Regions from separate parts of the Homo sapiens genome. Here region 2 is linked to region 1. Evidence: fine-mapped expression QTL. Tissue or cell type: whole blood. Region 1 holds a variant in brackets; the other region holds the start of a gene. All regions are shown on one strand. Distances are from middle to middle.

Region 1 (2,752 bases):
GGGGGTGGCCCAGGTGGCCCTAGGACCCCCCCTCCATGGAAAACCAGCTATGGCATAACACCGTGAGATGTTGCAATCAATACCAAGAAAGCCCCCACGATGCCGAGGACATCTTACTCCTGCTGCTGGGCCTCATCGTTCTTGTCAACATTGGCATCAACGTGGCAACTATGGTCAGTGATGATTGTGGACTACCTCTGGGGGTGAACAGGGCCAAGGGTGGGAGCCAGCTGCAGCCTACATCTCCACCTGCAGGTGCGGTCTAGATTGGGGCGGGGGCAGGGGTGGTGGTGCTGGGCGCGGAGGGCCTGGCCTTCACTCTCTTCCACCCTGCCCCAGATGTGGCATGGACTCCAGAACGCCTTAGACAAGATGATTGATTGGGCTACTCAGAAAAGTAAGTGTGGCTGCTGGAGAGGTAGGGGACCCCCATCCCCACCCCTGACAATGGCCCTAGAAACCCAGGCCCCAGTGTTCCCAACCTTGAGCTCTTCTGACAATTGCCCTGACTTCATGGACTCTTGCCTTCCCCAGATGAAATTCAGGCCAGTGAAAGTCCCCCAAGTGGTCCCCCAGACAAGGCTCAGGATGTCCACATCCACTGCATCCTGGACCCTGTGCAGGTGAAGATGTCCCGACCCACGCAGTACTCCTCTTTCTCCTGCCACCATTTCTCCAACCATCACAGTAGCAGTCTTCTTCGCTGTGTTCGTCGCCGCCGCCGCCGCCACCGCCGTTGTCGCCGTCGCTGCTGCAACCACCAGCAGCGGCCGCAGAACTACAGACAAATCCCCCATAGCCACTCAGTCTTCCGTAACCCACATCGCAGCCAAAAGATGTCACAACTACACCGAGTGCCTTTCTTTGATCAGGAGGACCCGGATTCCTACCTGGAGGAGGAGGACAACCTGCCCTTCCCGTATCCCAAGTACCCACGTCGCGGCTGGGGCGGGTTTTATCAGAGAGCGGGCCTGCCCTCCAATGTGGGGCTGTGGGGCCACCAGGGTGGTATCCTGGCCAGTCTGCCACCACCCTCTCTCTACCTGTCACCTGAGCTGCGCTGCATGCCCAAGCGTGTAGAGGCCAGGTCTGAGCTGAGGCTGCAGTCCTATGGGCGCCACGGTTCCCAATCCCGACTGTGGGGCAATGTGGAGGCTGAGCAGTGGGCCTCGTCTCCACCACCTCCCCACCGGCTGCCCCCTAACCCCTCTTGGGTCCCCGTGGGGCACAGCCCTTACCCCTCAGTGGGCTGGATGCTGTATGACTCCTGGGATCAGCGGCGTCGTGGCACGGAGGGCTTTGAGCGCCCCCCTGCCT[C/T]GGTGTCCCGGAACGCCCGGCCTGAGGCCCAGGGCTGCCGGGAGCACCACTCCCCACAGTCCCACCAGCAGAGCCTGCTTGGTCACGCCTATGGCCAGTCCCACCGCAGTCCCCACCCATCCACGGAACCCTTGGGCTACAGCTCCCAGGACCCCCGTGAGGTGCGGCGTCGGGCAGCTGACTGGGCTGAGGCTCTGCCCGCCTGGCGTCCTCTGACTACCTCTGCCTCCCTCACGGTGTTGGACGAGGCCTCCCATCAACGGACCCCAGCTCCAAGCTCAGTGCTGGTCCCCCATTCCTCCCAGCCCTGGCCCAAAGTCCAGGCTGCGGACCCTGCCCCTCCCCCGACCATGTTTGTCCCACTCAGCCGGAATCCAGGGGGCAATGCCAACTACCAGGTGTACGACAGCCTGGAGCTGAAGCGGCAGGTGCAGAAGAGCAGAGCCAGGTCCAGCTCACTGCCACCGGCTTCCACCTCCACCTTGAGGCCCTCTCTGCACAGGAGCCAGACCGAGAAACTCAACTGACCAGCAGGCGGATGTGGGGTGTGGGGCAGGGCATGGAGGGAGAGGAATAAAGAGAAACAGAGTCCAGGAAACACTGTGGTGGTCTGTAGCGTGGGAGTGCCACTCCTTCGGCCAGCCTGGGTCCCTGCCCTTGGCTTCCTGAAATGAGAAACCAGTGTCCCCTTCTTGGTGTGAGGCACCCCTTGGCTTAGTGGCCACGCGGCTGCCAGCAGGCCCTCCTAGTCTGCACCATGCACTACGTAGCTCTTGCACTGGCTGACGACAACCACCCAGGCTCTTTATTCTCCCTGTTTCCAGCAAGGATCAGGTCTGGATTCTGAACTCAGTGTCTTGAGTGGAGCTCTTTGGGATTTACTTAGCACATGGTACAGGACCAGGCCAAGGCTCTGGATTCCAGCCATGCCTTCCCCAAGGCTCTGAGGCGGAGGTCTCCCCAGTCTCTGGTGTGGTCAAGAGGTAAAGGATTCAGGATTCTGAAATGAAACTGCAGGAGTGGCCGAGTGCGGTGGCTCACACCTGTACAGCACTTTAGGAGGCCGGATCACTTGAGGCCAGGAGTTCGGGACCGGCCTGGCCAACATGATGAAACCCTGTCTTGGTCGGGCGTGGTGGCTCACGCCTGTAATCCCAGCACTTTGGGAGGCTGAGGTGGGCAGATTACGAGGTCAGGAGATTGAGACCATCCTGGCTAACACGGTGAAACCCCGTCTCTACTAAAGAAATACAAAAAATTAGCTGAGTGTGGTGGTGGGCACCTGTAGTCCCAGCTACTCGGGAGGCTGAGGCAGGAGAATCACTTGAACCCGGGAGGCAGAGGTTGCAGTGAGCTGAGATCACACCACTGCACTCCAACCTGGGTGACAGAGTGAGACTGCATCTCAAAAAAAAAAAAAGAAAGAAACCCCATC
Region 2 (2,500 bases), 130 kb after region 1:
CCAGTGATCTCGACTCCCCCCTGGCCACAGACCCCCAGGGCATTGTGTTCACTGTACTCTGTGGGCAAGGATGGGTCCAGAAGACCCCACTTCAGGCACTAAGAGGGGCTGGACCTGGCGGCAGGAAGCCAAAGAGACTGGGCCTAGGCCAGGAGTTCCCAAATGTGAGGGGCGAGAAACAAGACAAGCTCCTCCCTTGAGAATTCCCTGTGGATTTTTAAAACAGATATTATTTTTATTATTATTGTGACAAAATGTTGATAAATGGATATTAAATAGAATAAGTCATAGTCTCTCTCTTTATTGGGGCTCAGGGGACACTCTCAGGGTAGCTGGGGGCCACGTGAAGGGGGGCGTTGCGGAGCGGCACAGCTGGAACTCCGGGATGATGTTCAGGCTTGGGGGCGGGGACCTCCATGCCTCCAGCCCCCAGGTGGGAGCAGAGGTAGGAAGGCACACTGCCCAGGAAAAAAATCAATCCTCCGCCCAAGGTACAGCAGAAGCGGCCTCCTTGGCCTAGGAGGCAGACTTCCTCCTGCGGGGAAATCCCTTCCTGGCTGGGAGGAGCAGGGGCCCTTCCTCTTGGTGGCCTCGGACATTCAGCAGGTGCTGGCACAGGCCCTGGCTGGGAGGTGGGGCGGGCAGGAGCCAGCCTGGAGGAGGGGCTGAGAGTCAGCAGGCACACGGGAACCCGGAACCCTGTGTGCTGGGGAGGAATCCCGCAGTGGCCGGGGGGCTTGAGGCCGCTGCTTTGTCTCTTCGTCCAGAGCCTTATGTAAGAGCTTTTCTCGGGAAACAGGAAGTCCTGCTTGCCAATTTCAGCACAGGGAGTAGTGCAGGCCTTATTCCAACACACCCGGCCCAGCCTTAACCCCAGAACTCAGCCAGTTTCTTGCTTCCGTGCCCCTGGTTCTCCTCCCCATCGAGCCCACCCCTCCTTTCCCACCTTCAGTCACCCCTAGTGAACTGCCCCAGCGATCTCTGCTGTGCTTGACCCCGAGGGTCTTCCACCCTCGCCCTGACCCTGGACACTGCCCAGCTTGGCCCCCCATCCTGCTCCTGGCACAATGCCCTCTAGCCAGCCAACCTTCCCTCCCCCAACCCTGGGGCCGCCCCAGGGTTCCTGCGCACTGCCTGTTCCTCCTGGGTGTCACTGGCAGCCCTGTCCTTCCTAGAGGGACTGGAACCTAATTCTCCTGAGGCTGAGGGAGGGTGGAGGGTCTCAAGGCAACGCTGGCCCCACGACGGAGTGCCAGGAGCACTAACAGTACCCTTAGCTTGCTTTCCTCCTCCCTCCTTTTTATTTTCAAGTTCCTTTTTATTTCTCCTTGCGTAACAACCTTCTTCCCTTCTGCACCACTGCCCGTACCCTTACCCGCCCCGCCACCTCCTTGCTACCCCACTCTTGAAACCACAGCTGTTGGCAGGGTCCCCAGCTCATGCCAGCCTCATCTCCTTTCTTGCTAGCCCCCAAAGGGCCTCCAGGCAACATGGGGGGCCCAGTCAGAGAGCCGGCACTCTCAGTTGCCCTCTGGTTGAGTTGGGGGGCAGCTCTGGGGGCCGTGGCTTGTGCCATGGCTCTGCTGACCCAACAAACAGAGCTGCAGAGCCTCAGGAGAGAGGTGAGCCGGCTGCAGGGGACAGGAGGCCCCTCCCAGAATGGGGAAGGGTATCCCTGGCAGAGTCTCCCGGAGCAGGTGAGTGAGGGGAGGAGGGTGTCTGGGAGAGGATGGTTAGCATGGGGGGTCTCTGGGCCTCCTGGTCTGCAAAGTTTCAAGGGGGTGCAAGAGAGGGTCTCCGGTTTGGAAGTCAGGGGCGCGGCCATTCCAGGAAAGGAAACTGTTAAAGGTTAATGCTTCTCATACCTAACAAATCCTGGAGGGCAGCCAGCACCAACACTCAGGGTGCTGGGAAAAGGTGCGTGAGAGATCTGAGGCATCTCGGGGGCAGGGGAGGGCTGGGAAGGCAGGCTGGCTGGGACCCTCGCATCTTAACCTAACCTTGACCCTCTTTCCATGAGCAGAGTTCCGATGCCCTGGAAGCCTGGGAGAATGGGGAGAGATCCCGGAAAAGGAGAGCAGTGCTCACCCAAAAACAGAAGAGTGAGGCTTCCAGGGTGCAGCAGGGGTGGGAGGTGATCAAGCAGCGTGGGGATTGTAAGCCCGAGTCAGGGTGAGGGTGGAGGCTGCCAACAGCACAACGGGGGAAAGTGGATGCGGCTGAGATTCCCTCCTTCTCTCCTCAGAGCAGCACTCTGTCCTGCACCTGGTTCCCATTAACGCCACCTCCAAGGGTGAGCACTATTTTAAATAATGGCTTTGGGGAGGGGCAATAACCAGGAACTCGGGCTGGCACTTGGGCTCAAGGGGTCCTTATAGGTGAAAGGGAAAGAACCAAAAAGCACCTGAGAGTGCCAAGAAGTCCTGACCGACACACTCTCACCTCCAGATGACTCCGATGTGACAGAGGTGATGTGGCAACCAGCTCTTAGGCGTGGGAG

Evidence for each region. PIP is the estimated chance that this variant, and not a neighbour inherited with it, causes the effect.
Region 2: it holds the start of TNFSF13, and the variant in region 1 is fine-mapped to the expression of TNFSF13 in whole blood (TOPMed, PIP above 0.99).

What each region holds. Positions count from the first base shown.
Region 1 is chr17:7,425,654-7,428,405 of GRCh38, forward strand. It overlaps SPEM2 (SPEM family member 2), which reads left to right. Exons shown (of 3, transcript NM_175734.5): 1 at 1-173; 2 at 340-397; 3 at 535-1,915. The coding sequence starts at 36. The coding sequence ends at 1,844. Among named protein-coding and RNA genes, the nearest start is that of SPEM2, 1.4 kb to the left of the region's middle. RefSeq lists an enhancer at 898-1,399. The variant C/T (reference allele first, on the strand shown) is at 1,318.
Region 2 is chr17:7,557,601-7,560,100 of GRCh38, forward strand. It overlaps TNFSF13 (TNF superfamily member 13), which reads left to right and starts at 1,150. Exons shown (of 6, transcript NM_003808.4): 1 at 1,150-1,697; 2 at 2,024-2,102; 3 at 2,246-2,293; 4 at 2,449-2,500. The coding sequence starts at 1,440. TNFSF12-TNFSF13 (TNFSF12-TNFSF13 readthrough) reads left to right here. Exons shown (of 11, transcript NM_172089.4): 7 at 2,024-2,102; 8 at 2,246-2,293; 9 at 2,449-2,500. It overlaps TNFSF12 (TNF superfamily member 12), which reads left to right. Exons shown (of 7, transcript NM_003809.3): 7 at 1-281. RefSeq lists enhancers at 1-693, 279-338, 1,149-1,198.